Homo sapiens: one gene and its partner. The gene in region 1 interacts genetically with each later gene. Each region holds a gene or a part of one and is shown on either strand. Other genes may lie near its edges.

Region 1 (3,902 bases):
GCCAGGTGCACTGCAGCTCCCACCTCTAGGATGGCAGGGCAGGCTGCAGGGCTCCTATCTCAGGAAGACCTACGGCCCCCAAACCTTAAAAACATCTGAAGGGCAGGGATTGGACAAACAGAACTGTGCACGATTTCTGGATAAGCCTGACCCCGCAGCGAAGTTTGTCGGAGGACTGGGGCGGGGGTGGCCAGCAGGCCCTTCAGAGGGGGCAGGGCTGGCACCGTCTCCTGCCCAGGCTGAGCCGGGCCCTCCTCTGACAGGTGCTGTGCTTCCACAGCCGTGCCGGGATGACGGGCGGGGCCTGGTTGCTCTCGCACCCCCCACTCGGCTACCCCGCCGCCACCTGTCCTTCAAGTGACTCCAGAAGCTGCCCCTGGCCCACTGGGGTTCAGCCCTTGGGCCTCCTCCTGGCTGGGTGCACCAGAGGCTTCCAGAGCCAACACCAGGGCAGGAAGGCCTCATGGCCACCTGAGCCATGTGACCATCCTCTTTGCACACCAGGCCCCCAGCCACGTGCGCTCTTAGACGTCCTCCCAGTGCCACATCCTCGGAGCCTCCTGGAGCCAGGCCCATCAGAGAAGAGCCAACACGTGGGGGCTGCCCCAGGGACAGGTGAAGGCTGCCCCAAGACCGCCTACACGATGAGGGCCACAACAAACCTGCATCTGGGGCAAGCCTGGCAAGGCCTGGGGGACCCTTGTTCTCAAGGCCCCTTTTGGGGTGTGCCCCCTCCTCCTGCCACCTTGAGCACATAAAGGCGCCGTCGACACGGCCCATGTGGGATCACATGGTCTGAGCCCTTTCTCACGGGTTCAGAGCAGTCAGCATTGTAGGTGGGAGCAGAGCCCCGACTCACTGACTGCACGGGCTGGACAGACACGCATGGCTGAGACCCACACTGCAAGCAGACGCACCCCGGGCACCTCAGCACCTGCAGCCCCGAGCCTGGTCAAGTCAGGCCTGGCAGGGACCGGCCCGTTCCAAGCCGGGTGGAGGCGCAGGCAGGTCTCTGCCCCACAGGAAGCCTGGCCGTGACACCTGTGTGGATGCAGGGGCTGGCTGTGCCCAGGCCTCCAGCCGGGCCTTTTGGTCACTTGTCATCATGCTGGACAGTCAGCGTCTCCTTTGATGGAGACAGGAGAAGGCTCTCGGGCAGCTTCGAGTCTGATGCCACGGGACCCTCTCCTGCCACAGCTGCTTCTGAGCGTGGTACCCGAGCTCAAGCCCCGGGACGGCGGCTCTACGATGGGACCTGGCTTGGGACGCCAGGGCTGGGGTGGGCAGGACCGGGAGGACCCTCAGGACGCACGTACTCTGTCTCGGAGAGCTCCATGTCCGACACGGCTGGTACCACGTGCAGCACCGGCGCGCACGCTGGCCTGACGCAGGCGCGTCCCCGCCGCATAACCTCCTGCACATACCTAGGGAACAACCCGCGTCAAAGGTGGCTGTGCCGGCGGCCACCAGCCCTGGGGAGGGAGCCTCGACCAATGCTGCTGCGCAGGGACGGACGGAGCGTGAAGGGCCCGAACAACCCACCCTGCGCAGGCTCCAGTTTGCAGGGTAGACAAGACACCGAGTCCCCTCCTAGGCCTGCCTTGGTGGTACCCGATACTGCAGCGCGCCCCACATTCATGATCCCGGCACCAACCCCCTGAGTTCCCTGGACCGCACTTTGGGGAGCTTCCGATCAGGGGTGCTGGGATCCCACCACCTCATCCCCTCTGGTGGGATGACATCTCGTCCCGAGAGTCTGTCCTTCAGTCTCTTGGCATGAATTCCCCACCGATAGCGTGGACACTGGCTCTGGGGCGTGCGTGGCAACTCGGTCTGCACCTCAGGGAGGCTGAGGGCCCCCCGGCGCCACAACTGAGGCCATCCTGGGGCAGCACAGCAGCTCCTCTCACGTGGACACCTCCACCGGGGTACACTGGGCGACCTTGATGGTGGTTTCTACTCTGACATCCTGACAGGGCCCAGCACCCAACCTGCCTCTGGGCCTTCACTCCGTCTCCACAGCTTCTCGCAAAAACCCACATCCCCTGGACGGACAAACCCAGCAACTCTGGGTTTCCCCATGGGGGGATGCTGGAGCCCAGCAGCCAAACGGGCGGGAGGGTCGTGTCTCAGAACGGCGGGAGTGGTCCCACGGCTCAGCGGGCATCCCCTGCCATCATGTGGGGCCACGGGTACCAGGGGAAAGCGCAGACGCAACCTGAGAGACCCCTGCTCAGCCCAGCAAGGATGGCTCAGGAAGCCCCGGCAGGAGAGCCCACACACGCCCAGGGCCTCGGACCTGCTGCACACGATGCCCACCACGGCTCATCTGCCAGCCCAGTCACACGCCCCGGCTCCGAGCACCACACTCCAGGCTCCTGCATGGCAGGGGGCTCCAGCTCCTTGTTGGCCGAACACGATCACAGGGTCACAGATGTTTGGTCATAAAGTGGTCACCCTTTGGGTTTGAGGTAACTGTGACCCTTTCTGGCCCCAGAGCTGTCATTAGGCTCACAGCCTGGCAGAAGCTCAGGAACCTTTAATGACTTGAGACCACACAGGCTTTCAGCTGGGAAGGGTCTGAACCCTGATGCTGGTTCGGCAGAATAAGGCCCCTAGCCACAGCCTCCCTGGAGTGGCACAGCCCCAAAGCTGGAGGCCCGGGAGGCGGGCCTGGACCCCAGGCCCCAGGTGACCCAAGGTGGACAGGAGGAGCTGGTGACCTCTGAAGGCAACCATGGCCTCTGTGACCACAGCCCCAGGGCCTGGGTGAGCTATAGGCTCCCAGGACCCTCAAAGAGACACTGATCTGTGGGGAATTCCAATGACCCAGGATGGCCGAGAAAACTGGCCTTATGAGCAAGCTGAAAATGGAGAAGCCAGGTTCTGGCCTGGAGCGAAAATGCTGCCCACACAAAGGGGAGACCTCCCTGCAGCCCAGACAGAAGCCTCCCTGCCCTAGGGAGAGAACAGGGTCTGGCTACGGAGCCCAGAAGACCAAGGAGGGCGCAGTGAGGAGGGCTGTGGGCTGGACGTCCCGGATGAGAGAAGGGCACAGTGAGGAGGGCTGTGGGCTGGACATCCAGGATGACAAGAGGACACAGCGAGGAGGGCTGTGGGCTGGACGTCCAGGACGACACTTCTACATCTGCACGGCTTTCAGAACCACGTAGCTTTCCGACCGTGCAGAGCCACTCAGGGCTCCTGGGACGCAACTGTCAAGAGGCAGCCGCCATGCCTCCAGGACCTCTGCCCTAAAGCCCAGGCTGCCCAGCAGCGAGCAGCCTCTGGCTGGGGACCGGCGTTCCCCACACACTGGGGCCCTGCAGCCTCCCTGCAGACTGGGCTCAGGTTGAGGAGGGACCCCGCCTCCAGAGCAATGAGCGCGGCGGCCTCGGGTGTGTGAAAGCTCCAGCCCCAGCCTCCGTCCACCGCAGGGTGGCCTGCCACGTGGCCCCTCAGTGGTTCTCAGTGGATGGAAGGGCCCAGTATGGCTGGGGGACACCCAGAGGGCCGTTTTTCCCCTGAAGACCTCAGGCCTCGGGGAGCTTCAGCCCCAGGAGTGGTGCTGTGGTAACCCCCAAGACCCACCCCACCCCACGACGCGGCCGTACCTCTGCTTGGAGGGTGCTCGGCTGGCTCTCTTTTCTTCCTCCTCCAGACGTCGGCGCGCCTCCTCCAGCTGGGTTAGGGGGTTGGGAGCTGGGTGGGGTGGCATGGTGGGGTCTTGGATGAAGAGGTGGGAGGGCTGCACGGAGGTCCGGAGCTGAGGGCCGGCCCAGGGGTGCTCAAGGGACAAGGGTCTGGAGTTCTCATGGGGCTGTGGCTTCCTCGTCCCCGAAGACCTTGGGGAACAAGAGAACAAGTTGTGACTGTGGCCGACACCCTGGCCAGGTGGCCTG
Region 2 (3,902 bases), on another chromosome or scaffold:
CCTTAACAAAGCAGGCCCCACTCTCTTGGCTGACCCCTTATGATGCAGAGGGAGAAGGGGCAGAAGCCACATCCATAGTGTGCTGGCCCTCGGGTGATCCTGGAAAGCAGGGCTTGGAGGACGCATCCAGCCCCACCGGCAGAGGCCATCTGGAGTCAGGCCCTGGCAGAGCACTGGGGATAAGAATGTGGCCAGAGTGTTGAATAAATGGAGCCAGCAAGGCTGGCCGGGGACGCCCTACAATCACCACTGTCCCCAAACCAACAAGACAGGGGCCCAGGAGGGTGCTGGCAGGATGGTGAGTCAGGGCAGGGTCCCCTGAGGCCCTTGCACCAGTGAAGATGGGAGAGTCAGGAGTCTGACTCGCCTCCCCAGACTCAGACCCAGAGGACCCAGACCCTTCGAAATCAACTCCGAACTAGAAACTAAGACCAATGGTGGGGGCGCAGCGCACAGCACTACTGCTGGGCCCAGCACACGTGGGTATTTTACACGCCACGACCTCATTACTTTGCACGACCCCATTTTGCAGATGGGGAAGCCAAGGATGGACAAGGTCATCACCTGCTCAAGCGCATACAGCTCACAAAAGGAAGAACCAGCACCCAAACCTAGGTCGAATTTACTCTAGAGCCAGTACAAAGAGGAGTAAATCTGTACTTAGTTTTTAAAATGAATGAGATGACTATGCAGATAAACAGGAAGTCCTGTCCCCAGGGAGGTCCCACCACACAAGATTCTGGATTTTCTGAGTGATCTTGGGCTGTCCCCGCTCCAGCCATGGGCCTGTCTCCTGTCTGCAAAAAGAGCGACGGGACCTGGGATGGGCGCTGTCTAGGAACAAGTCTGTGCCAAGAGCTGTCTCCATGCCCTTTGACCTCCAGCCAGTGGCTCCAGACTTCAGTGCTCAGCCCAACAGCTTCAATAATACGAGGGTCCTTTACACCCACTCCAATTTCACAAACAGTAAGGAGCTGGGTACACTCATTTCAGATGAGAAGACTGAGGCTCAGAATGATATGGTGACTTACTCCAGGTCACACAGCAAATGAGGAACACGCTGGGGATCTGAACCTGGACTGGCCCCCACATCTCAGCCCTTTTCTTTCCTTCTTTTTTTTTTTTTTTTGATGGAGTCTTGCTTTGTCGCCCAGGCTGGAGTGCAATGACACGATCTCAGCTCACTGCAACCTCCACCTCCCAGATTCAAGCCATTCTTCCGCCTCAGCCTCCAGAGTACCTGGGATACAGGCATGTGCCACCACACCCAGCTAATTTTTGTATCTTTAGTAGAGACAGCGTTTCACCATGTTGGCCAGGCTGGTCTCGAACTCCTGACCTCAAGTGATCTGCCCGCCTCGGCCTCCCAAAGTGCTGGGATTACAGGTGTGAGCCATATCTCCTGGCCTCCTTTTTTTTGAGACATGGTCTCACTCTGACACCCACGCTGGAGTGTGATCTCAGCTCACTGTAGCCTCAACCTCCATGGCTCAGGTGATTCTCCCACCTCAGCCTCCTGAGTAGCTGAGATTACAGGCGCGTGCCGCCATGCCCAGCTACTTTTTATATTTTTCTTGTAGAGATGGGGTCTCACCATGTTGCCCAAGTTGGTTTCGAACTCCTGGACTCCAGCAATCTGTCTGTCTTGGCTTCCCAAAGTGCTGGCGTTACAGGTGTGAGCCACCGCACCTGGCCATCCCGGCATTTTTCTATTCTGCTGTGAGGCTACTGTGCATGTCTGTGCATGTCACAATCCCCATTTTCTCATTGGTTTGCTTGACTAGCCTTCAGTGAACACCCACTGCGCTGGGCACTAGCAGATATTACCAAATGCCTGCCTCCCCGGGAGTAGCTTGGGGTCGCAGAGAAAAACCTTTAAACCAGCTGCACCACACACTCTCCCTCCCTCTGAGCTCCAGGGTGTCCATAGGGGAGGCTCATCTACTAAGCACTCAGCAATGAACTGCACATCTGGCTGGCACTTTAGAGTTTACAAAATACTTTCCCATCTGTCATTTCATCTCTGCCTTGGAACAGTTCTTGGTCAGTCAGGCAGCATTATCACAAACTACAGATGGGGACACTGAGGCACAGAGGAGCTGCATGACCTTCCCACAGCCACACAAAGCCACGTCTAGAACGCAGAGCTAGACGTCTAACGTCTCCCTCGGCATGTTCTGTCTTCCACGCTCTCACTCATGTGGAGGGCTGTGGGCATACAGGCTGCTTCTGCCAGTTTTCTAGAGCGGTCTTGGGAGGCCAACTTGACCATCTGTGCCTCAGTTTCCTGATGTGCCAAACAAATAATCTGGTACTATCTCTAGGGGCTGCAGAAAGTACCCTGCAAGGAAGTGGTCAGGGAACTCCCAGTCTCCGTCCCCGTCTCCATTGAGGCTTCCTTAGCACATTTCATACTCCAAGGAACCCTAACCATGGGGTAACAGAAACCCCGAAGTTCTGAGCTGATGGACACGACACACAGACTTGGTGTTCTCTGCACTGGACAGAGCTGATTTTCATTTTCCAAGGAGGGTAACCAAGGCACAGAGGTGTGTCTAGCCTGCTTCTGAGGGTGCAGGGACAGGAATGAGGATAACTCGTAGAAGGGCTGGCCACCTCACTCCAGCAACTTCAAGCCTCCACCCGCTAATCCACAAGCACCAACACTAAATACCTTCCCTTTGGACCAATAAGCACAAAGGAAGGGCCAAGACTCATGACCGTGCCCCTCAGAAGTGGCACTGAAAGGCGCAAGCCTCATTTCTCCCAGGCCAAGGGGAGGACTGAGAGGTCAGTGATTTGTTTAAAATGCAACATCACAGCATACTCATACTTTCAACAGGAAGCACATCCGGAGAGAAAAAGAGAGAGAGAGAACTCCCTAATGAGGAGACCGCATCCCCCCACCCCACCCCCGAGGTTACAGGGGAGCCTGCGTCATCCCAAAGCCTGCCTGGGCTGGGTTCCAGGAGGCCAGGACATAGAGAGGGGGGCCTGGCTAGGGGTCCAGCAGCAACCCAAGTCCCTTCTATCTACCAATATCCTTCTCCCAGGAAGCAGGGGAGAGGATGTGAACCCCGCCTGGGTTTTCCCACACCCAGCTGGTGACCCAGCTGACCCGGGACACTGAGGCACAAAAGAACCGCATGACTCCTGCAGAAACTGGAGCTAAAAATACCCTCCAGTGCCCAGCCTGGCCTGCGAGAGGAGCCCCCTGGCCTGCCTCCCGGCAACCTGCTGCTTCCTTCCCCATCTGGGATGGCCCTGGGGCAAATCATGCCCCTGGAGCCACATTCTGACTTCAGATCCCCAAATCCTGGGGTCTTTCCTCCTCTTGGTCCCATGGGCTGGCCCCAGGGGCTCCAGCTGGAGCTAGGAACACTTACCCAGGTAGATATCTCCGAAGGACCCGCTCCCGATCTTCCGTCCCAGGCGGTACTTGTTCCCCACACGTAGCTCCATGGCTCACTCTTGCTGCAGAGGAAGCAGGAACATGAGGGTCAGCGACGTGGGGAGCCGGGAAAGGGGTCCAGTCCACCAAGGCCAGGCAGAGCCACCAGGAACTCGAAAACCTGCATTCTCGAAGACCACATTCTGCAGGTGTCAGGTGGCCCACAGCCTGCACTCCACACACCTGGGGAACAGCTAAGGCAGGCTGAGGACAGGTTTCAGTGTGGCCAGAGAGGAAGCAGCCAAGCAAGCATGTCTTTGGGGGATGCTCATTCAGGGGCCCCTCAAAAGAAGCTTCTCAAGGGATCACAACGGGCATCAGCCCTCTTACACCTCCTACCCCCCAGGCTCCCACAGCCTGGCCTGGTCTTCCCAAGTACTGCCCCTGCCCAGAGGCCAGACCTCGCCAGTGCCCAGCACGCCTTGCAGGAGAAAGTCGCATCCCCTACTGG

Evidence for each region.
Region 2: of AXIN1 (region 1) and CSNK1E, changing one suppresses a phenotype caused by changing the other (phenotypic suppression), as found in Homo sapiens cells (one study listed by BioGRID).

What each region holds. Positions count from the first base shown.
Region 1 is NC_000016.10:289,874-293,775, forward strand, and holds part of AXIN1 (axin-1), read right to left. Parts: intron 3,846-3,902; coding exon 3,615-3,845; intron 1,425-3,614; coding exon 1,317-1,424; intron 1-1,316. UniProt on the Homo sapiens protein: Component of the beta-catenin destruction complex required for regulating CTNNB1 levels through phosphorylation and ubiquitination, and modulating Wnt-signaling.
Region 2 is NC_000022.11:38,310,696-38,314,597, forward strand, and holds part of CSNK1E (casein kinase I), read right to left. Parts: intron 3,475-3,902; 5' UTR 3,463-3,474; coding exon 3,387-3,462; intron 1-3,386. Other genes in the region: TPTEP2-CSNK1E (casein kinase I), read right to left, coding at 3,387-3,462.